2 separate regions of the Homo sapiens genome follow, and region 1 is linked to region 2. The links come from fine-mapping of genetic effects on gene expression. A gene starts in region 2. The other region holds a variant in brackets. All regions are shown on one strand. Distances are between the middles of the regions. Region 1 overlaps SAFB2 (scaffold attachment factor B2). Region 2 holds the start of TICAM1 (TIR domain containing adaptor molecule 1).

Region 1 (12,164 bases), 780 kb after region 2:
AATACAATTGCTTTTTTTTTTTTTGAGACAGTTTCGCTCTGTCACCCAGGCTGGAGTGCAGTGTCGCGATCTCGGCTCACCGCGACCTCCGCCTCCTGGGTTCAAGCAATTCTCCCGCCTCAGCCTCCGAAGTAGCTGGGATTACAGGCGCCCGCCACCACGCCTGGCTAATTTTTGTGTTTTTAGTAGAGATGGGGTTTCTCCATGTTGGCCAGGCTGGTCTCCAACTCCTGACCTCAAGTGATCTACCCAAGTCGGCCTCCCAAAGTGCTGGGATTACAGGCATGAGACACCGCACCCAGCCACTAAATACAACTGCTTTTAATACAAGATAAGTCATCACAAGGAAAACACACAAACATGCAAGGTTATAAAACCATTAAACTTCATTACTCACAACTAATAACCAGAAGTCCTACCCATCCACATTGTTTTCTCTATTTCCACTGTGCCCACAAACAGCTGTGGGGCTACTAAGAAATGCACCCATCCACTCCAGCTGGGCCTGAGAAGAGCTCTGACACAGACATGGACTGTCAGAAATGTCCCCATGGGGAAAGGACTTCCACTTCTGGCTGAGATGGGAGAACTAAGCATTGTCTTCCTGCCTGAAACAACTAACAAATGTGATGAAACGTAGGCAACGACAGTTTTCAGATCCTGGACATCAGGCTGCCCAAGACAACAATCCCTGAGAGCTCCCTGACTGCCCCTGCTCACTGCCTAGATTCCCAGGCAATGGGGGATGGGTAAGACAGCACTGAGATTCTGAGACCAAGACAGAGAGAAATCACGGAACTGAGTATCAGAGAGGACACAGCCACACAGAGCCACGCAGAGCAAGCTGAAGAGACCCACAGAGGGTTCCTCCCACCCAGTGCACACGTGTGCGAGGAAACCAGAGGCTGGGACAGCACCACCCATAAGGAGCAGAGGGAACAATCAGGAGCAGAGGGAACAACCACTGGAGGGGCACTCAGGGCCACAAATGGTTTGCTCTTCCCAATAGCCAGGGTGGAAAGGCTGGTAATTCACGGGCCATCAGACCCACTACTCAGAGGGCACTGCCCAGTGGTGAGACAAAATCAGCCCAAACTGAAGGCTACTTTGGCCCTGCCTTAGTGTGTGTCCAGTACCTCAGCTGTGTCCCAGAAAAAAGCTCAAGGGTATTTGTAGAGATACAAGTATAACTAGCACCCAAAAAATACAATTCACAACATCCAGTAAAAAATTACCAGGCACAGGCTGGGCACAGTGGCTCATGCCTGTAATCCCAGCACTTTGTGAGGCCAAGGCAGGTAGATCACTTGAGGCCAGGTGTTCAAAACCAGCCTGGGCAACACAGAGAAACCACATCTGTACCAAAAATTTTAAAAATTAGCTGGGTGTAGTGGTACATGCCTGTGGTCTCAGCTACTCAGGAGGCTGAGGTGAGAGGATCGCTTGAGCCCGGGAGCTCGAGGCTGCAGTGAGCACCACTGTACTCCAGCCTGGGTGACACAGTGAGATCCTGTCTCTAAGGGAAAACAAAACAAAACAAAAAAACCAGAAGAAACTTAAAAGCAGCCACAGAAAAAGAGAGAGAAAAGACACAAATTGGTAACTGAAGGAACAAAGATTAAATTAACCTAGAATTCTATACCCAGTGAAAATTTATTTCAAAATGAAGACAAAGTAAAGACTTTTTCTGACATGCAAAAGAAACAAGAACGTATCACCAGCAAACCTGCACTACAGGAAACATTCAATTCCTTCAGGAGGGAGGAAGATGATCTCCGATGGGAACTTGGATATACAACAAAAAGCAACGAAGAGCACCTGGTGAGGTGAACATGATTTTTTCCTGTCATTTCTGGGTCTCTTTAAAATATAACTGTTTGGCTGGGCGTGGTGGCTCACGCCTGTAATCTCAGCACTTTGGGAGGCCGAGGTGGGAGGATCACGAGGTCAGGAGATCAAGACCATCCTGACTAACACAGTGAAACCCCATCTCTACTTAAAATACAAAAAATTAGCCAGGCCTGGTGGCGGGCACCTGTAGTTCCAGCTACTTGGGAGGCTGAGGCAGGAGAATGGCATGAACCCAGGAGGCAGAGCTTGCAGTGAGCCGAGATCGCGCCACTGCACTCCAGCCTAGGCGACAGAGCGAGACTCCGTCTCAAAAACAAACAAAAACAAAAACAAAAACAAAAAAAAACACAACTGTTCAAAGCAAAAAAGCCAAACCACAACAAGTCAAAGCCAATAAAATATTGGGTGACTTCTTAAAGAGAAGTAAACCGTATGACAATAACATCACAAAGATCGACGGGAGGGGAAATGCAAGTATATTCCCACAGAGTTCTTGCACTACGCTGAAACCAACAGAGCACCCCTTGCAGACAGACTGTAAGGGAAGATGTGTACTGTAATCCTACAGTAAACCACAATGACACAGAGTTAGAGCAAATAAGCCATCAGTCATAAAAAGGACTCGACCCACAAGAAGGCAGATAAATGGGAAAAAGAGATCAATAAACAAACATGAACAGAAAATAGAGAACAAGACAGTAGATCTAACGCCAAGCCCACCACCACTGGCGCGCAGAGTAAACATTTCCCCGGGACACAGGAGTCCTGGTCTCTGCCCTATCTCTGACTCAGGGCATCAACCTAAGCAAGGCATTCCCCGTCTCTGGACCTCATGGCCCCAACTGTGAAATGACAAGGTGGAACCCACAAGCTTGAGGTTCCCATCTGACGTCCTTGGTTTTGACCACACAAATGGAGGAGTCAAGGCTCTGCCTGAATCTGTCCAGGGCCAAAGGGACAGAAGACTCTCCTGAGAGAAACACAGATGCCACTTCCCATTCTACCTTCCCATCAAATTAATCATCCTTACAAGTATATCTCTTCTGATGACAGACAAAACCCAAATGAGAGCAGGCACCATACTAAGCTTGTATGTCCCTATCCCTGAGCTATGCCATCCGCCCTGGAGGCTCTGCATACTTCAGTCAAGTAGCTGAGTGGTGTCCTGCCCCTCTGGCCTTCCTACGTCCTTCTGTTTTTGTCCAGAGCTGAGCCCCACAGGTAAGGCCAACTCTGTCACTCACGCCTCAGCTGAATGTCACTTCTTCAGCGAGCTCTGCTGAAGCTGCCTCCCAAATCTAAACACGGCCTCCCCAACACACTGACGGCGTGCTCTAATATTCCTTAATACGCTCATCACAACACATCATATGTGTTTATTTCTTAAATGGTCTTTTTCCCGCCAGACTAAAAAATCTGTGATGACAGTGACCACGTATGTTTACCTCTGCTTAATCATCAGTGTCCGAGTGAAGTCAACAAAGTAACTGAATAAACAGGTTATTCATGGCTATAAGAATTTCCTAAGCCCTTGCTGAACACACAGACTGTTCAGAGAAAAATTGAACAGCACGCTTTCTCCGGGTCCTGTCCGCTTCTTAAGCAATGAAACATTAACCAACACCTGATCGGGTGACACAGACCTAGACAAAGGAACGGCTTCTGTAGCCAGAAAACTGTGTCAGACAGGGCCCACTCTGCCTGGAATCAGGGCACCCTCCAGACACTAAATGGTCCGAACCTTGTCCCTTGGAAGCCACTCCCCAGAGGCACCCAGGAGACCAGGGCAGTGCCAATTGCTTACCAGAAGACTCTTGGCTAGGCGCGGTGGCTCACGCCTGTAATCCCAGCATTTTGGGAGGCCAAGCAGGCAGATCACATAGGTCAGGAGTTGGAGACCAGTCTGGCCAACATGGCGAAACCCCATCTCTACTGAAAATACAAAAATTAGCCAGGCATGGTGGTGGGTGCCTGTAATCCCAGCTACTCGAGAAGCTAAGGCACGAGAATCACTTGAACCTGGGAGGGAGGCGGAGGCTGCAGTGAGCCAAGATCACACCACTGCACTTCAGCCTGGGCAACAGAGCGAGACGCAGTCTCAAAAAAAAAAAAAAAAAAAAAAAGAACAACAAACAAACAAAAAAAGAAGACTCTTAATTAATTTCAAACAGTGGAATCATTTTAAATTGTCCTCACCTTCCTTTGGAAAGCTGCTGAATTGTACTATTTTTCTCCCACCCCCATGAGCAGCATCTTAGTGATTTATTTTTGAACCACGATCATGTTCTAGTTATGAGACTATATACTTAAAATGCTAAATGATATGAAAGTCAATTATTCACTTCATTCTTTTTTTTTTTTTTTTTTTTTATGACATAGTCTCGCTCTGTTACCCAGGCTGGAGTGCAGTGGCACAATCTTGGCTCACTGCAACCTCTGCCTCCTGGGTTCAAGTGATTCTCCCACCTCAGCTTCCCGAGTAGCTGCGACTACAGGCACAGAACACCACGGCTGGCTGATTTTTGTATTTTTAGCAGAGACAGGGTTTCGCCATGTTGGCCAGGCTGGTCTCCAACTCCTGACTTTAGGTGATACGCCCGCCTCGGCCTCCCAAATTATTCTTAAGGGAAAAATCTCATCATGTAAGCTTTAAGTTTTGCACAAGACAAAAGACCACCAGTCTCTTTGAGACCAGTTAGAAAGAACCCCAAGAACATTGAGAGAGAAGCTGTTTATACAGCTGTTCTGAGCACTGTTGTGATATGACCAACCACCTGCCCTGCTCCGCACCCTAGTTACTGTGAGTCAGGAAACAAGGTGCACTGCACAAGACTGGGCGAGCTTCGCTGCTGTCGTTCCATTTTTTAGTAAACACAACATCTTGCTATGTTGCCCAGGCTGGTCTTGAACTCCTGGGCTCAAGCAATCCTCCTGCCTCAGCCTCCCAAACTGCTGGGATTATAGACGTGAACCACCGTGCCCAGCAGAGCTTCCTTTTTAACTCTGAATCACAGTGGATGGTATGAGGCAAGGGAAGGCATACCTTCCCATACTTGCTGAAAAGGTTCTTGAGATCCGTAGCGCGTGTTGTGGAGGACAGCCCGCTGACCCACAGGTTCCGACCAGAACCGCTGCCGACCCGACCTGGCACGAGAGGGAGATTCTTAGGCATCACCCCAAGGCCTAACAGGAAGCACAACCATTCTTAAGACCGCAGCCCTCTTTAAAAACCCTAACGACGCCCAATCCCAACTGCTGACTTAAGAATTTAACGCACACACACATGCCAACACACAGAAGGCTGAAAATCTGGACAGCAAAAACTGAGTTTCCTTACTCAAGGAATAATCATGCCCATGTCAGTTATGAACTGAAATGTCTTTTGATGATCAGATCTCATCCAAGACGGCAGTCTCTAAAATCCTTGAAACAGTCTTCAATGAGCAGAATTATTCCTTTCTTGTAATGTGCTTTTCACCATCCCATAGATGACAACCACAAGAGAAACATAAAATGCAGGTGCTTGCGAACTTCTAAAACTAGTCTCTCAAGAAACCATTAGGTGGTTGATTCCGGTAACCCATAACAAAACAAATTACTGAATCCAAAGTGTGTATATCTCCAGGCCCCTCCTCCCAAAATAAGGGAACCATACCTGGCTCCCTACCACGTTAAATTAAATCATACCTTTTTCATCTTTAATGATTGGCTTTATATCTTTTTCTTCCTTAAAAGAGCTAGAGACAAAAGTTAATGTTACTCATACAGGAAAAAAACGAAAGAGAACAAAACTAAAAATATGATTATGTGCTAAAACTGAATACCTACCAGAAAATTAGTCTGAAATAAAATTTTAACAGACACCTCTGCAAGCTTATATTGGAAAATCTGACCCCAAAAATACAATGTCAGATTTGTAAAAGTCAATTCGATTTAGCTGAAGATAACAATTAACAATTTAAGAACACAACCATGGTAGGTTGAGAAAAAGAAAAGGAATTGAATCACCCATTAAAAACACACAAAGAGAAACGAAACATTCTTTAGAAGCAAAACTACAATTTCGTCAGTCTGGCTGGCCAATTGCAGAAAAAAACAGCTTATGTGTGTCATTACATGACCAATGAAAAGGAGATAGCGTCTGGTCTAAAACTGAGAAAAAACAAACCTCATTTTCTGATCAGCGCCCTCACTGGTTGAGGACTCTTTAGGAGCCGGAGGGACTTCATTACAAGCGTCAAAATCAAACTTCCTCCCGTCTTCTTTGCTATCTCTGGCTTCTGGGCTTGGGGCTTCCGTGGGTGCTTCTGCGAGCTCCTCGCTAGAGGCCTCCGCGAGCTCGGAGGCCGCACTACTCTGCTCAACTGCCGGCTCTAGCCCTACAGGCTCACAGTCCGTCCTCTCGCCATCGCCTGGCTGCTCCGCGGGCTCCCTTTTCACTACCGCTAACAGGCTGTCTGCCTTGCTCGACTGAGCGTGTGCTGTTGACTCGCTGGCCAAATCTAAATCACCCTCTTCCGGATGGGCGCTGTCAAATAGGTCCTCTTCCTCCGCAAGCTTTCTGTCTGGCCCCACGCTACTTGTGTCCTGTGCAAATGGCTGCTCCAGCTCGGAACTTTCTTCTTTTACTGGCTCAGATTTACAAGTTTCCCCCAAAATGTCGAGTATTTTCTCATTTTCTACGGATTTAACAGGAATAGAATGGCACAAGGTTTAATTACCAGGGAAATAAAGCAATCACAAATGTGGAACTGGCACGGCTGCCACACTAACACGAAGAGAACTGCTAGCTACACAGAGATTGGAAAACCCGCGGGTACACAAAGTTATACTGGTTACACTACCTGCGCCGCGACCGCCTCTAGGTAAGCCTCTACGCTACACGGAAGAGAAAAGGCCCCCACAGATTTAAACACCTACAACCACGCGGCTGGTTCTCAATAGTCTTCTTCGAGTTTTTGTTCAAGTCTGGGTCTTCTGACTGATTTTCCAATGTCCAAGGTGCTGAACCGAATGCAATCACCATTCAATGACAGCTCAACTTCCAAATTTCTTTGAATTTCTTTTAACAGAACAATCCAATATGAAAATCAGAATCTCTTCTGACGGTGGGAGATAAACGCAGTCCGGAAGGGGAATAATATGTTGAAAATTTTCA[C/T]GGAGAAACTCTGTTTCCTCTTCTGGAATCCAGTCACTTCTCAGGTGGTAAGTGCCCTGACAACAGCTTTATCCTGCCTTAACTGCGTTAATCAAAATGACTGCAGCAAAATATCACAAGATCTGTTTCATGTGTAGAAACACATGGAGGAATCACGGGGACGGGGGAATTAAATGCCACTCTACGTGGTTAGACATGAAAAGAATCACTACTACATTGCACCAAATGTATTTGACCTCAAGAAGCCAGAATGGCTCTTCCACAGATCTGGTGATACGAATGGGTTTCCAATCTCTGATCCTTGTATGATCTGGATTGTCCACCATTAGAGCAATTTACAAGATCATAACACAGCTTAAAATATAGACAGCTTTAAAATAATAGTGTGAAAACTTTCAAACCATAACTGTCGTGTTTCTCTTATCAGTACCTGGCTCCAAAAGGGATTCTTCAATGTCCTATTTAAAAAAGAAAAAGCAAATCCACAAGTCACTTTAAACACGGGGCACATACATTTCACCAGTAAATATGGCTTTCAATCATCTGTGAATAAATGCCTGTTTCCACAAAACTTTCTTGTCTCCAAAAAATGTATTCCATCCTACAATAACCTGATGAAAACCAGCTCATTTTAACAGTTTCCCTGGTAACAGCAGGTCCCTAGTGATAACAGTCTGTCCCATTCTCCCGAGTTTGGGCCCTGCCCTGCCATGCCACCCACCCCATGACCAAGCTGACCTAGTGGCTGCTGCAGCTGGCAAACACCCCCTTTGTCAGAGAAGAGGTCACAGTGGATTTAAGAAAAAAATACTTCTCCCAACATAAACTGATTTGTAACTGAAACCTGTCATAACAAAATGATCTCTCTACTCTGCTGAAAACCTTTTCCGACATCTGTCTCACTTAGGACAATAGGTCCAATCCTTCTGGTGGCCCAGACTCAGCGAGGCGGGCCCAGCTGCTCTGCAACACCTCTGGCTTCTATCCAACCCTGTGTGCTCCCCTCTCTCTTTTGCATCAGAGACACCACCCAAACTTTCTGCTCCAAATTCTTCTTTCCCTCTTCAACCTATCCGTCAGACCTCTGGGAAGAGTTCCAGGCACTTATGAAGTCCAACCACCAGAACTGCTCCCTCATCACACTTCTTTCTCCCTTCTGGTTACATATTTGGTTTGATCCCACTGCCCCTGCTAGATGGCCAGCCCTGAGACTGTTTCTCTTCTGCTAACCTCTTAACCCCAGCATCCAGCACAGTATCCAGTCATTTCCATACACATACACACTGCTCTTTCATTATGGAAAATCAACCACTCGATTAACATTTCCAGCGATGCAGAACCAGATGGTAACTTACCGGAGTTACTTTGAAGTTCAACGATGAAGTTTCCAAAGTGTTCTTAAATCCTTCCCCATCCACCTGAAAAACAAAATGGAAGATGACTTCGTGGAGGCTGGAGCTATGAAAACCAAGGCTGACACCTCGCTTAGGCAACTTGTGTGTCTATTTCCCTCACGGCACCTTTTGCCATCTGCAAGTCTACTGTTGGGTCATTCAGTTCAGCACCTGCCTCTCCGCCAGAACACACACTCCACGACTCTGCTCCACCAGCGTCTCTGGCAGTGGCCTGCAGGTGGGTATGCCCTGTCTGTACTGGGTGAATGAACGAATGAATTTCCCAGGCAGTTTCTAAGTACTGGTGATTACCACATACCCCTCCAATCACAGGATTTCCAAAGCAGAACTCAAAATGATAAAATGCACCCCTCCAATTTCACCTGGTAGCAATACTCTTAAGGTAACACTAACCGGGCACTTTCTCCTAGCCTACTTTATTCATTCATTCATTCACTCATTCATTTGAGACGGAGTGTCACTCCTTTTGCCCAGGCTGGAGTGCAATGGCGCCATCTCGGCTCATTGCAACCTCCACCTCCTGGGTTCAAGCAATTCTCCTGCCTCAGCCTCCCGAGGAGCTAGGATTACAGGCATGCACCACCACGCCCGGCTAATTTTTTGTATGTTTTAGTAGAGACGGGGTTTCACCATGTCCAGGCTGGTCTTGAACTCCTGACCTCAGGTGATCCGCCCACCTCAGCCTCCCGGAGTGTTGGGATTACAGGTGTGAGCCACCGCGCCTGGCCCGCCTAGCCTACTTTATTAAAAACAAACATCTAACTTGGTCAATTTCTCTCTTTACTACATGCCAAACAAAAGAAAAACTGTTAACACCAAGTTTTACTAAATCTGAAGCTCTTTTTAAGTGAACTACAAAAACAGCACTCCCAAATATTTTCTTTTTTCCTTTTCTCGATTTGAACTCATGACCTGGGATGCCTCCATTAACTGAGAAGTACACACTCTGAAAACAATAAGCACACAGCAGTACCAGACTGAGAAAGGCGGCTAACCAGTTGCTCAGTGCTGCCCTAGGTCAAAGGATGGTAAATTTGGAGGCAATGACTTTTGACCGTAAGGTTTAAGGTTCAGTCCTATGGAGGCATTTCCACCCCCAAGCTGAAAGCTGCAATGCCTTAAGGAAACAAAACAACCTACTGGGCACGTGACATCAGTCAGAGTACAATGAAGATCAGCTCGAAGACACTGACAGCTTGTGATATTTGAACAGCCTCACCAGAGAGCTCTACGCCAAAACACTAGAAGTGAAAAGCTGGGAAAGCCCTAACAGAGCAAAGTTCCTCCTTTACATACAAGGATGCTCACAGTCAGTCCTTTTGGGGAGCAGGGTTGATACTTGTCTTCACTGTACTTTACATCTTTTAATGTAACTGCTTAACCTTGCTTAAAACAACATTAACAGGCTAGGCGTGGTGACTCACCACTATAATCCCAGCACTTTGGGAGGCCGAGGCAGGCAGATCACTTGAGGTCAGGAGTTCGAGACCAGCTCAGCCAACATGATGAAACCCTATCTCTACCAAAAATATAAAAAATTAGTCAAGTGGCTGGGCGCAGTGGCTCAAGCCTGTAATCCCAGCACTTTGGGAGGCCAAGGCGGGCAGATCACGACGTCAGGAGATGGAGACCATCATGGCCAACATGGTGAAACCCCATCTCTACTAAAAATATAAAAAAATCAGCTGGGCGTGGTGGCGCATGCCTCTGGTCCCAGCTCCTCAGGAGGCTGAGGCAGGAGAATTGCTTGAATCAGGGAGGCGGAGGTTGCAGTGAGCCATAATCTTGCCACTGCACTCCAGCCTGGGTGACTGAGAGAGACTCTGTCTCAAAAACAAACAAACAAACAAAACACAACATTAGGAGGAATATCTACATGATGAGATTAGAAACCATTTTTGAGCTGGGCACGGTGGACCACACCTATAATCCCAGCACTCTGGGAGGCTGAGGCGGGAGGATTGCTTGAGCTCAGGGGTTCAAGATCAACCTGGGTAACCTAGTGAGATCCCGCCTCTAAAAAAAAAAAAATTTTTTTTTAATTAGCTGGGCGTGGTGGTTCACTGTGTAGTCTCAGTTATGCAGGGGGATTGCTTGAACCTGGGAGGCTGAGGCTGCAGTGAATTATGATGACCCCACTGCACTCCAGCCTGCACAACAGAGCAAGACCCTGTCTCTAAATAAATAAACCATCTTTGCTTCTTAAAACTGTATTTTAAAAGGAAAAAACTAAATGGGCACTGTGGCCTGTGCCAATAAGCCCAGGTAGTCAGGAGGATCGCTGGAGCCCAAGAGTTCAAGACCGGCCTGGGTAACAGTTGAGACCTCATCTCAGAAAAGAAAAATCTTTTATGTCAGAGCTTTCTATTTTATGACTCACCACATGCTTCGAATTATAAAAACACTCCCCAGTGCTACAGAAAAGCTATCTATGAGTAAATCCCTGAGCTACACAGCGTTTAAATGGACATGGTTTAACACCAGGGTGTAGAAGCAGAACTGTGTGTTCATGGCGGTTTAGCTGTGTTCTCCCTCACACGAGCAGCACGCGAGCACCAGGTGCCTCGGGGCTATGGGCACATCCTGCCGTGTCTCCAAGTTACCTACAGCATGCTCTGGGGGCTGAGCCGGGAGCTGTCTCAGCTGTGCAGCCACGTATTCTTTACTATCACAAAAGGAATCGAGAAGGCCGTCCGTGCCATCCTCCCCAAAATCTGGAGCACTGCTATTCGCCACTTCAGTTTCGTCTAGCACACTCATGTCCATCATGCCCATATTCTGCAGGTTCTCCAGACTTGCTTCCATGTCCTCCTGTAAAGAGGAAGAAGAATCGTTAACGACCACCTGGACCAGGACAGGGAGCTGCTGCTTGTCATCTCTACCCTGACATCACTTACCTGCCCGTCTCTGGAATCGTCTTCCAGGCCATTATCTTCTGTGCCTTCCTCCTCCATCTTCAGTCCTAATTACAGAATAATTGTTCAATCAGATAACACTCAAGTTCTACCTCATAATTAGTTTATGCAGAATAGATTTCAATCTTAGAACAGAACACATTACAAGATAAACTATAAGTCTCCCCTCTCCTGTCACACGTAATTTTGTCTCAATTTGTTTTCTTTTTTTTTTTTTTTTTTTTTTTTTTGAGATGGAGTCTCCCTGTGTCACCCAGGCTGGAGTGCAGCGGCACAATCTCGGCTCACTGCAATCTCCACCTCCTGGGTTCAAGCGATTCTCCTGCCTCAGCCTCCTCAGCAGCTGGGACTACAGGCGTGCATCACCATGCCCAGCTTATTTTTGTATTTTTAGTAGAGATGGGGTTTCACCATATTGGCCAGGCTGGTCTCAAACTCCTGACCTCGTGATCCACCAGCCTCGGTCTCCCAAAGTGCTGGGATTACAGGCATGAGCCATGGTGCCCGGCCTCAATTGGTGTTCTAAGTAAGCCATCAACAGGGAGATGAAAATCTAGGATTCCTCTTAGATTCAGAGTACTCTGATTTTCCACAAAATATCTAAAAGTTTCCAAATATTTCAAAAACACTCCAAACCTAAGAAAAAAAATCACAAAAAAATGAGCAAAGGATAAAAACAGGCATTTTCAACAAACCAACAAAAAAATGCAATACCCATCTAGTAACCAAAGAACTGCAACATAAAATAACATATTGAGTTAGTGATTTGCTGGCTCTCCCTATATTCCACCCATTTCAAGTAGGTCTTTGTCATTTTTTAGCTCA
Region 2 (12,164 bases):
ATCCTAGCACTTTGGAAGGCCGAGGTGTGTGGATTGCCTGAGCTCAGGAGTTCGAGACCAGCCTGCGCAACATGGTAAAACCCCGTTTCTACTAAAATACAAAAAATTAGCCGGGTGTGGCAGTGTGCGCCTGTAATCCCAGCTGCTTGGGAGGCTGAGGGAGGAGAATTGCTGGAACCCGGGCGGCAGAGGTTGCAGTGAACTGAAATGGCGCCACTGCACTCCACCCTGGGCGACAGAGCGAGACTCTGTCTTAAAACAACAACAACAAAAAACTACCTATCAGGTACGACAGTTATTACCTGTGTGATGGAATAATCTGTACACCAAACCCTGTGACATGCCATTTAGCTATATAACAAACCTGGATATGTACCCGTTAATTTTTGTATTTTTGTAGAGACTGGGTCTCCCCATGTTGCCTGGGCTCAAGTGATCCTCCCACCTTGGCCTCCCAAAGTGTTGGGATTACAGGCGTGAGCCACCGCGGCCGGCATTTTATCTAATTTTTAATTAATTAAGGCAGGGTGCAGTGGCTCATGCCTATAATCCCAGTACTTTAGGGGGCTGAGGTAGGAGGATCTCTTGAGCCCAAGAGTTCGAGACCAGCCTGGGCAACAGTGAGACCCATCTCTACAAAAAATAAAAATAGGCCGGGTGTGGTGGCTCACGCCTGTAATCCCAGCACTTTGGGAGGCTGAGGCAGGTGGATCACCTGAGTTTAGAAGTTCGAGACCAGCCTAGCCAACACAGTGAAACCCTGTCTCTACTAAAAATAAAAAATATTAGCAGGGCATGGTGGCAGGTGCTGGTAATCCCAGCTACTCGGGAGGCTGAGACAGGAGAATCGCTTGAACCGAGGAGGCAGAGGTTGCAGTAAGCCAAGATCACACCATTGCACTCCAGCCTGGGCAACAAGAGCAAAACTCCATCTCAAAATAAAGAAACAAACAAATAAATAAATAAATAAAATTAAAATAAAAATAATTAGCTGGGTGTGGTGGTGCATGCCTGTGGCCCCAGCTCCTTGGTAGACTGAGGTCAGAGGATCGCCTGAGGCCAGGAGAATCAAGGCTGCAGTGACCGGAGATCGCGCCACTGCACTCCAGCCTGGGCAATAGAGTGAGACGCTGTCTCAAAAACAACAAAATAAAAAAGGTATGGAAGATGCCTCATTCGTAATGGAACATTATATTGGACCATGTTGGGTATATTGAGTTAAATAAAATATATTATTAAATGCATTTACATATTGGATTAATAAAATGTATTATTAGGAGATATATATATATATTTATTTATTTATTTATATATTTTGGAGATGGAGTCTTGCTCCATTTTCCAGGCTAGAGTGCAATGGCATGATCTCGACTCACTGCAACCTCTGCCTCCCAGGTTCAAGCGATTCTCTTGCCTCAGCCTTCCGGGTAGCTGGGACTACAGGCATCCGCCATCATACCCGGCTAATTTTTGTATTTTTAGTAGAGACGGGGTTTCACCATGTTGCCCAGGCTGGTCTCGAACTCCTGACCTCAAGTGATCTGCCAGCCTCGGCCTCCCAAAGTGCTGGGATTACAGGCGTGAGCCACTGTTCGCGGCTGCTTCATGTTATATTTCTGTTGGACAGCACAGTTTTAGACATCTCCACTACAGTCCAGTAATATTGGAGTATGGCCCCTTTTTGACACAAGGAAACAGAGGTACAGAGAAGTTGAGTAAGTAGTCCAGAGTCACACAGCTCATAAGGGATACAGCTGGATTGGAACCCAGGCTGTCTGGTTCTAGAATCCACTGAGCTTTTTGGCTCCTTTTAACATTTTCAGATTTAACACAGACTCCAGCTTATGTGGACCTGGTTATGGGGCCTGAGAAACAGCCTCACCTAGTTTTAATTAAACTAATGTTCAGGAAATAAGCATATGGCCTAAGTACTCCTCTAGAGAAGTGGAGGATAAAAGGTTTTTCCTAATAATCTTAGGAAATAATAATAATAATAATAATAAAATAATGCAGGCACAATCGGACAATAAGAAAAAGGCCAGACGGCCGGGCGCAGTGGCTCACGCCTGTAATCCCAGCACTTTGAGAGGCCGAGGCGGGTGGATTGCCTGAGGTGAGGAGTTCGAGGCTAGCCTGGCCAACATGGTGAAACCCCGTCTGTACTAAAAATACAAAAATTAGCCGGGCATGGTGGCGCAAGCCTGTAATCCCAGCTATTCGGGAGGCTGAGGCAGGAGAATCGCTTGAACCCGGGAGGTGGAGGTTGAACCCGGGAGGCGGAGGTTGCGGTGAGCTGAGATCATGCCATTGCACTCCAGCCTAGGCTACAAGAGTGAAACTCTGTCTCCAAAAAAAAAAAAAAAAAAAAAAAAAAAAAAAGAAAAAGGCCAGATGCCCAGCTTCTATCTCTGTTGTAAGCTCTACATAAAATGGGATAAAAATGAAAATGGGCTGGGCGCGGTGGCTCACGCCTGTAATCCCAGCAGCACTTTGGGAGGCCGAGGCGGGCAGATCACGAGGTCAGGAGATCGAGACCGTGCTGGCTAACACGGTGAAACCCCGTCTCTACTAAAAATACAAAAAATTAGCCAGGTGTGGTGGCGGGCACCTGTACTCCCAGCTACTCGGAAGGCTGAGGCAGGAGAATGGTGTGAACCTGGGAGGCGGAGCTTGCAGCGAGCCGAGTTGGTGCCACTGCACTCCAGCCTGGGTGACAGAGTGAGACTCCATCTCAAAAAAAAAAAAAAAAAGATCCTATATTCAGGTGGGACCACAAGTCGGCCAAAACTTTTTGAAATGATCAAGACAACTACTTGGAATACGGTCCAATACCCCCACCCCCCGTTAAGTTCGATGATCCACGAATCAACTGCTCTTCCCACCTCCCGGTGTTTCCTGGGAACGGTTGTGTGTATAACTTACCAAGCAAAAAGCAAACATACATTGGCACGTACCCTCCAATTTTTAGCTGATAAGAGGGCATAGATGATAAAGTGTGGAGAAGGGCCATGCTGGGACAGGGTAGCAGTGGGGCTGGGCGTCATGCTGAAAATTCATTGAGTTTAACACTTAGAATTCACACTCTTTTTTGTTTTTTTTATTTTTTTTGAGACGGAGTCTCGGTCTGTCTCCCAGGCTGGAGTGCAGTGGCGCGATCTCGGCTCACTACAAGTTCTGCCTCCCGGGTTCCCACCGTTCTCCTGCCTCAGCCTCCTGTGTTGTTGTTTTTTGACAGGATCTTGCTCTGTTACCCAGGCTGGAGTGCAGTGGTGTGATCATAGCTCACTGCAGCCTCAACCTCCTGGGATTAAGAAGTGATCCTCCCACTCAGCCTCCCAAGTAGCTGGGACTACAGGCACATGCCACCATGCCCAGCTAATTATTAATGTTTTGTAGGGACGGGGTCTGGAACTCCTGGGCCCAAGCGATCCTCCCACCTTGGCCTCCCAAAGTGCTGGGATTACAGGTATGAGCCACTGCACCCAGCCTACATGTCAGTAAAATATATATACATATATATATTTTTTGAGACGGAGTCCCACTTTGTCGCCCAGGCTGGAGTGCAGTGGTGCGATCTAGGCTCACTACAGCCTCCGCATCCTGGGCTCAAGTGATTCTTGTGCCTCACTCTCCTGAGTAGCTGGGATTACAGGAGCCTGCCACCACGCCCAGATAATCTTTTTTTTTTTTTTTTTCTGAGACCGAATCTCCCTCTGTCGCCAGGCTGGAGTGCAGTGGCGCGATCTCGGCTCACTGCAACCTCCACCTCCTGGGTTCAAGCAATTCTCCTGCCTCACCCTCCCGAGTAGCTGGGACTACAGGTGCATGCCACCATGCCCAGGTAATTTTTGTATTTTTAGTAGGGACGGGGTTTCACCATGTTGGCCAGGATGGTCTCAATCTCTTGATCTCGTGATCCGCCTGCCTTGGCCTCCAAAATTCTGGGATTACAGGCGTTAGCCACCACGCCCTGCTAGTTTTTGTAATTTTAGTAGAGACAGGGTTTCAGGCTGTTGGCCAGGCTGGTCTCGAACTCCTGACCTCAATCGATCCGCCTGCCTTGGCCTCCCAGAGTGCTGGGATTACAGGCATGAGCCACTGCGCCCGGCCTGTATAGGACTCTTAAAGCAGTGCCTGGCACACGCATGCCCCACAAACATTAGCATGCAAGACTGAAACCTCCTTGCAAGAAGGACTCAGGGGAGTTTTGCAGAAAACACGACAAAGCCAGCCAGACTTAGAATCATCAAGGCAGGACCATCTCCACCTGAATGCCTGGCAAATCTCTAAAATCACGTGGTCTTTCTTCTCATTCTCTCTGCCCCCCCGGGCCTGAACTCAACTCTATTTCAGTGACTGCCCCAGCTTCCCCCGCCCGCCTCCCCTGCCCACTGCCACCTCCACCTTCTCGAGACCCAGCAAGTTTCATTTCTCACTGTCCATGGCTGGGACAAAGTCCACTCCTCACTCTGAAGAGCAGGCGCCTGGCGGGACAAAAACACCCATGGGGTAGGAGGGTTCTGGCTCTGCCACCTGCCGGCTTGTGTGGTCTGTTTCTCAGCCTCAGCTTCCTCATTTATAACACCCACATGAACTGGTACTTAGGATGAATGGGAGTCTGTTTTGAAGCTTTCATGCGAAAATATGGTTAAAAAGTTTAGATCAGTGCCCAGCAAGGAGCAAGAGCTTGATATAATAATATTAGTGTGACAATAAATATTGGCAGACTTTTTCTCTTCCTCTTCCTTTTTAAAAAAATTTTTGATTTTTAATTTCATTTCTTTTTTTTTTTTTTTTTTTTTTTGACACAGAGTCTTGCTGTGTCGCCCAGGCTGGAGTGCAGTGGCGTGGTCTGGGCTCACTGCAACCTCCGCCTCTTGGGTTCAAGTGATTCTCCTGCCTCATCCTCCTGAGTGGCTGGGATTACAGGCATGCACCACCACGCCCCGCTAATTTTTGTATTTTTAGTAGAGACAGGGTTTCGCCATGTTGGTCAGGCTGGTCTCAAACTCCTGACCTCAGGTGATCTGCCTGGGATTACAGGCGTGAGCCACCTGCCCAGCCCCATTTCATTTTTTTTAGAGACAGGGTCTCACTCTGTCACCCAGGCTGGAGTGCAGTAGTGGGATCACGGCTCACTGCAGCCTTGAACTCCCGGGTTCAAGTGATCCTCCCACCTCAGCCTCCCGAGTAGCTGGGACTACAGGTGTGCGGCACCACACCTGGCTAATTTTTGTATTTTTGGTAGAGACAGAGTCTCACCCATGTTACCCAGGATCCTGGGCTCAAGCAATCCACCTGCCTCAGCCTCCCAAAGTGTTGGGATTACAGGCATAAACCACTGCACCCGGCTAACTTTCTTTTTGAATTTTTTTGTAGAGGTGGAGTCTCGCTATGCTGCCCAGGCTTGTCTTGAACTCCTGGGCTCAAGTGATCCTCCCACCTTGTCCTTTTTAAATGTTTTAACCACCTCTCCCACTCTCCTTCCCACACTCTCATGCAGCCTTTCATGCATCGAATATGCATTTATTGAGCACCTACTAGGTCCAGGAACTGTTCAAAGTGCCACTGCATATCAAGGCAGGCACATCTACCCTCACAGAGCTCCCAGTCTGGTTCAGGGAGACCAACAGTAAGCGAGAAAATAACCCAAGATCATTTCAGAGAATGAAAAGTAACGTGAAAGCCATGAGCCGGGGGCTGTGTGGCTCTGAGAGACTGGCTGGGAAGGGGCTACAGGGGACCACGGTGGTCAAGGGAGGCCTTTGGGGACAGGAGGTAACATTGAGCTGAGACCTAAAGGAGCTGAGGGAGGAGGCTGGGTGGAGATCAGGGAGGAAAGCTTCTGGAAGGTGAAGCCACCTGCCCAAAGGCCCTGGGGCAGGACTGCGCCTGGTGAGCTGGAGGAACAGTAAGGAAGCCCATGTGGCTGGATAACCGTTAGGAGGGGGAGAAAGGAAGAAGGTGTGTGGTGGTACAGGGTGTGAGGTTGGGATCCTGGGTGTCAGGGAAGAGTTTGGGGTGTCAGGGAGGAATTTGGGGTGTCTGGGAGGAATCTGGGGTATTCGGGAGGGATCCTGGGTGTTGGGGAAGAATCCAGGGTGTCAGAGAGGGGTCCTGGGTGTCACGGAGGAATTTGGGGTATCAGGGAGGGACCTTGGGTGTCAGGGAGAAATTCAGGGCGTTGAGAGAAATATGGGGTGTGAGGTAGGAAGCTTGGGTGTCAGGAATTTGGGGTGAGAAGGAATATGGGGTTTCAGGTAGGAATCCTGGGTGTTGGGGAGGAATCTGGGGTGTCCGGGAGGAATCTGGGGTTTGGGGGAGGGGTCAGGCTGTCGGGGAGGAAGCCAGGGTGCTGGGGAGGATCCCGACAGTGGGGGAGGATCTGGGCCACCAGCGCGGGGAGCTGGAGGTTGAGGGGAACGTCAACCTCCCAACGCGCGGCGCCAGGCCCCCTCCTCCGCACCGGGGCCCTAAGAGGGAGGCCAGGTGGCCTGGAGCCCTGGCGAGCGGCACGGGCTCAGGGCCACCCCCCACACCCCCGACACCTTCTCCACCTCAGGCCCGTCCTCGCCCCTTCCCCACCTACCAGGGATCCGGGGCTGCCGGCTGCGCCACTGGGTCCTGGGGTCCTGGGGGCTGGGGCTTCTGCGGAGTTGCCCGCGGACCGTAGCGCGCTGAGGGCGCTGGCTCCACCCCGCGGCCCGCGCCCTGGGAAGGAAGCGCGCCGCCCCTTCCGCGTCCCGGGTGGGTGTGGGACGTGAGGTCACGGTTTCGGAGTCCTGCCCCGCAGCACCGGGAAAGTCCCCGGGTCGCCCCGCACCCATGCGCTCTCTTCCCAACCCTTGCGGTCACGTTCAGCAAGTGTGAGCACCTACTGTCTGCAGGGGGCCAGAAGAACTCGCATCTGCTCTCGGGGAGCCCACAGTCATCTGGGCGGGGGTCCCAGATGAGAAAGTAATCACAATTGTAAAGTGGGATCATCTCCGTTAGTGATAGGTGCTTTCCAGGAAATAAATGTAGCAGCTGTTTTTATTTTATTTCTCTTATTTTATTTGTTTGTTTGTTTATTTATTTTTTTATTTATTTTCCGAGACGGAGTTTCGCTCTTGTTGCCCAGGCTGGAGTGCAATGGCGCAATCTCAGCTCACTGCAACCTCCGCCTCCCGGGTCCAAGCAATTCTACTGCCTCAGCTTCCTGAGTAACTGGGATTACAGGCATGTGCCACCACACCTGGCTAATTTTGTATTTTTAGTAGAGATGGAGTTTCTCCACCTTGGTCAGCGTGGTCTCGAACTCCCAACTTCAGGTGATCCACCTGCCTTGGCCTCCCAAAGTGCTGGGATTACAGGTGTGAGCCACCGTGTCCGGCCTCCCTTTTTTTTTTTTTTTTTTTTAGTTGGAGTCTTACTCTGTGGCCTAGGCTGGAGTGCGGTAGTGCGACCTCGGCTCACTGCAACCTCCACCTCATGGGTTCAAGCGATTCTCCTGCCTCAGCCTCCTGAGTAGCTGGGATTACAGGCACGTGCCACCACACCTGGCTAATTTTTGTATTTTTAGTTGAGATGGGGTTTCACCATGTTGGCCAGGCTGGTCTCGAACTCTTGACCTCAGGTGATCTGCCCGCCTCGGCCTCCCAAAGTGCTGGGATTACAGGCGTGAGCCGCTGCGCCCGGCCTAATTTTATGATTATAATAATTATTATTATTTGAAACGGGGTCTCCCTATATTACCCAGGCTGCTTTCAAACTTCCAGGCTCAAGCAATCCTCCCGCCTCGGCCTCTCAAAGTGCTAGGATTACAGGTGTGAGCCACCGCACCTGGCCTATATTATTTTTATCACCACATTAAATAAGATCTAATAATCACAGTGATTTTGCCGTGGTGACAAGTGTCAGATGTGTTTCTGGTTGCAATGCAATCTGAAAGTATCTGTGGTTTTTATTAGGGACAAACGGACAAAGTCCCAGGTCCTGTGGTTGTCTTCATTAATAATTGAGGGAATGGTAATTATCAGTTAGAGTCAGTGAAAATAAAGATGTGAAATTTTTTTCCTCCATCAGAATTCACAGACACCCTGAACACCCCTAAGAGGCTCAGGGACCCCAGGCTGAAGTTCACCTAAAAGTTCTTGTAGGGAGATAGCAATGGAAGTTATGTTGATGTCAAATCCCCCACAGTTCCCCTTATTGAGTACTTCTCTCCAGTGAGGGAGAAATTTTATTGAGCACTGACTGTGTTCCAGGAACGTCTAGGCTCTGGGAATACAGTAGCGGGGAAGACAGAAATGGTCTTACCCTTCAGGGTCTCCAGGGCTGGTGGGGGAGAGAAAGTTAAACACATCCTCCTGGCCTCTCTGTCTCCCACCCCAAAATTACCAATTCAAGGAGTGTCTCATAGGTGCTTGTACCCATGCAAAACTGTGCCCAGACTTTTTTTTTTTTTTTTTTTTTGAGACAGAATCTCACTCAGTCACCAGGCTGGAGTGCAGTGGTGCAATCTCGGCTCACTGCAACCTCAGCCTCCCGGGTTCAAGCGATCCTCCTGCCTCAGCCTCCCGAGTAGCTGGGACTACAGGTGCATGCCCCCATGCCTGGCTAATTTTTGTATTTTTAGTAGAGATGGAGTTTCACCATGTTGGCAAGGATGGTCTCGATCTCTTAACCTCGTGATCCACCCGCTCAGCCTCCCAAAGTGCTGGGATTACAGGCGTGAGCCACTGCACCCGGCTTTTTTTTTTTTTTTAGAGATGGGATTTCACTCTGTCGCACAGGCCGGAGTGGAGTGGCGCCATCATAGCTCAAAGCAGCCTCCAATTCTGGGCCTCAAGCGATCCTCCTGCCTGAGCCTCCCAAGTAGCTGGGACTACAGGCACGCAACACTGTGTTGAATTATTTTTTACATTTTTCTTTTAGAGACAGGGTCTCACTATGTTACCCAGACTGGTCCCCGACTCCTAGCTTTAAGAGATTGTCCCAATTTGGCCTCCCAAAGTGGTGGGATTACAGACATGAATCACCGTGACTGGGCTTTGCTGGTCAACTGATCAATGTCCTTTTTTTTTTTTTTTTTTTTTTTTTGAGACAGGGTCTTAATCTGCCACCCAGGCTGGAGTGTAGTGGTGTGATCACTAATCACTGTAGCCTTGACCTCCTGGTCTCAAGCGATCCTCCCACCTCAGCCTCCCAAGTAGCTGGGACTGCAGGTGCATGCCACCATGCCTGGCTAATGTAATTTTTTTTTTCTTTTGTAGAGATGATGTCTTTCTATGTTGACCAGGCTGGTTTCAAACTCCTGGCCTCAAGCAATCCTCCTGCCTTGGCTTCCCAAGGTGTTGGAATTACAGGCGTGAGCCACCATGCCTGGCTTGATCAATGTCTTAAAACAACCGTTTCTCCATCAAAATGGGTTTGATGGTTCCCATTTTACAGATGAGAGAACAGGCTCAGAGAAGGTAATGGCTGAAGAATTCAGAATTCCAGGGCTGCAGATGGGTGAATTTGGCCACTTGCAGAGAGGTGCAGTTGCCCCCTCTCTTCTTCAGTGAAAGAAACAGGCCGGGTGCGGTGGCTCATGCCTGTAATCCTAGCACTTTGGGAGGCTGAGGCGGGAGGATTGCTTGAGCCCAGGCGTTCAAGACTAGCCCTGGCAACACAGTGAGATCCCATCTCTACAAAAATTAAAAATAAAGAAAAAATGAGGGCCGGGTGCAGTGGCTCACGCCTGCAATCCCAGCACTTTGGGAGGCCGAGGCAGGTGGATCATGAGGTCAGGAGATCAAGACCATCCTGGCTAACACGGTGAAACCCCTGTCTCTACTAAAAATACAAAAAAATTAGCCGGGCGTGGTGGCGGGCACCTGTAGTCCCAGCTACTCAGGAGGCTGAGGCAGGAGAATGGTATGAACCCGGGAGGTGGAGCTTGCAGAGAGCCGAGATCACGCCACTGAACTCCAGCCTGGGCGACACAGCGAGACTCCATCTCAAAAAAAAAAAAAAAAAGAAAGAAAGAAAAAATGAGGCATGGCAGCACGTGCCTGTAGTCCCAGCTACCTGGGAGGCTGAGATGGGAGGACCACCAGAGCCCAAGAGGTTGAGACTGTAGTGAGCTATGATCGCACCACTGCACTCCAGCCTGGGCAACAGAGAGAAACCCTATCTCAAAGAAAAAATATAAAAAAAAAAAAGAAAGAAAGATAATATTCCAGTAAAAGTCCAAGTTTTTTTTTTACTTTCCCTCTCCACCACCTCCCCTAGAAGCCTCCACCCACAAGCCCATCCATTCTGTTTTCCACTTTTTTTTTTTTCTTTTTGGAGTCAGAGTCTCGCTCTGTCGCCCAGGCTGGAGTGCAGTGGCACGATCTTGGCTCACTGCAACCTCCTCCTCCTGGGTTCAAGCGATTCTCCTACTTCAGCCTCCTGAATAGCTGGGATTACAGCTGTGCGCCACCACGCCCAGCTAATTTTTGTATTTTTAGTAGAGATGGGGTTTCACCATGTTGGCCAGGCTGGTCTCGAACTCCTGGCCTCAAGTGATCTGCCTGCCTCAGCCTCCCAAAGTGCTGGGATTACAGGCATGAGCCACCATGCCCGGCCTCTGTTTTCCACTTTTGCACACATATCCACAGATCCGTGATCATGATACTGAATATTCTTCGATCTGATTTTCCTTTTTAATTCGCATAGGCCAGAGTTCAGCAAACTGTTTGTTGTAAAGGACCAGACAATAAATACTTTCGGCTGGGCGTGGTGGTTCACGCCTATAATCCCAGCACTTTGGGAGGCCGAGGCGGGCGGATCACAGTGTCAGGAGATCGAAACCATCCTGGCTAAAGCGGTGAAACCCCGTCTCTACTAAAAGTACAAAAAATTAGCCGGGCATGGTGGCAGGTGCCTGAAGTCCCAGTTACTCAGGAGGCTGAGGCAGGAGAATGGTGTGAACCTGTGAGGTGGTGCGGCTTGCAGTGAGCTGAGATCGCGCCACTGCACTCCAGCCTGGGCTACAGAGCGAGACTCCGTCTCAAAAAAAAAAAAATTTACTGTATTCCATTGTCAATATATCTTTGACACTTTCACAAGTCAACATATGTGTCATGTATGATATTCCAAAACAGGCATTGCTACCTTAAAATGTGGTGGTTATAAGCACCGTGGAGAGAACTTGACTCTTTGAGTCCAATTTTTTTTTTTTTTTTGAGACAGAGTCTCGCTCTGTTGCCCAGGCTGGAGTGCAGTGGCGTGATCTTGGTTCACTGCAACCTTTGCATCCTGGGCTAAGTGATTCTTGTGCCTCAGACTCCCCAGTAGCTGGGATTACAGGTGTGTGCCACCACACCCAGCTAATTTTTGTATTTTTAATAGAGAGGGGGATTTCACCATGTTGGCCAGCCTGGTCTCGAACTCCTGACCTCAAGTGACCTGCCCACCTTGGCCTCCCAAAGTGCTGAGATTACAGGCGTGAGGCACCATGCCTGGCCTGAGTTCAAATTACTACTCAGCTATTAGTAGCTGAGGTGGGGCTGAGGGTGGGCTCTCTGGATTACACCTCATTTTCCCTGGAGATAATAGCATCTATCTGATGGGATTGGGAAAAAGATCGGGTGAGAGCCAGGTGCAGTGACTCTCACCTGTAATCCCAGTGCTTTGGGAGGTTGAGTGGGAGGTCGCTTGAGCCCAGGAGTTTGAGACCAGCCTAGGCAACATAGCAAGACCCACATCTGTGTGTGTGTGTGTGTGTGTGTGTGTGTGTGTGTATAATTTAGCTGAGTGTGGTGGTGCACGCCTGTAGTTCCCAGATACTCAAGAGGATGAGGTGGGGCCAGATGTGGTGGCTCACACCTGTAACCTCAGTACTTTGGGAGGCCGAGGTGGGCAGATCACTTGAGGTCAGGAGTTTGAGACCAGCCTGGCTAACATGGTGAAACCCCATCTCTACTAAAAATACAAAATTACATCCTGGCTAACACGGTGAAACCCTGTCTCTACTAAAAATACAAAAAATTAGCCGGTTGTAGTGGCAGGCACCTGTAGTCCCGGCTACTCGGGAGGCTGAGGCAGGAGAATGGCGTGAACCCAGGAGGTGGAGCTTGCGGTGAGCCGAGATCGTGCCACTGTACTCCAGCCTTAGCCGGGCGTGGTGGTGCACGCCTGTAATCCCAGCTACT

Evidence for each region. PIP is the estimated chance that this variant, and not a neighbour inherited with it, causes the effect.
Region 1: its variant is fine-mapped to the expression of TICAM1 in left ventricle (GTEx, PIP 0.97).

Annotation. Positions count from the first base shown.
Region 1 is chr19:5,605,101-5,617,264 of GRCh38, forward strand. SAFB2 (scaffold attachment factor B2) reads right to left here. Exons shown (of 21, transcript NM_014649.3): 3 at 11,322-11,386; 4 at 11,032-11,235; 5 at 8,365-8,427; 6 at 7,440-7,467; 7 at 6,020-6,530; 8 at 5,539-5,588; 9 at 4,895-4,995. Among named protein-coding and RNA genes, the nearest start is that of SAFB2, 12 kb to the right of the region's middle. RefSeq lists enhancers at 6,710-7,909, 11,882-12,051. The variant C/T (reference allele first, on the strand shown) is at 7,010.
Region 2 is chr19:4,825,025-4,837,188 of GRCh38, forward strand. TICAM1 (TIR domain containing adaptor molecule 1) reads right to left here and starts at 6,688. Exons shown (of 2, transcript NM_182919.4): 1 at 6,590-6,688. RefSeq lists silencers at 6,405-6,524, 6,535-6,824.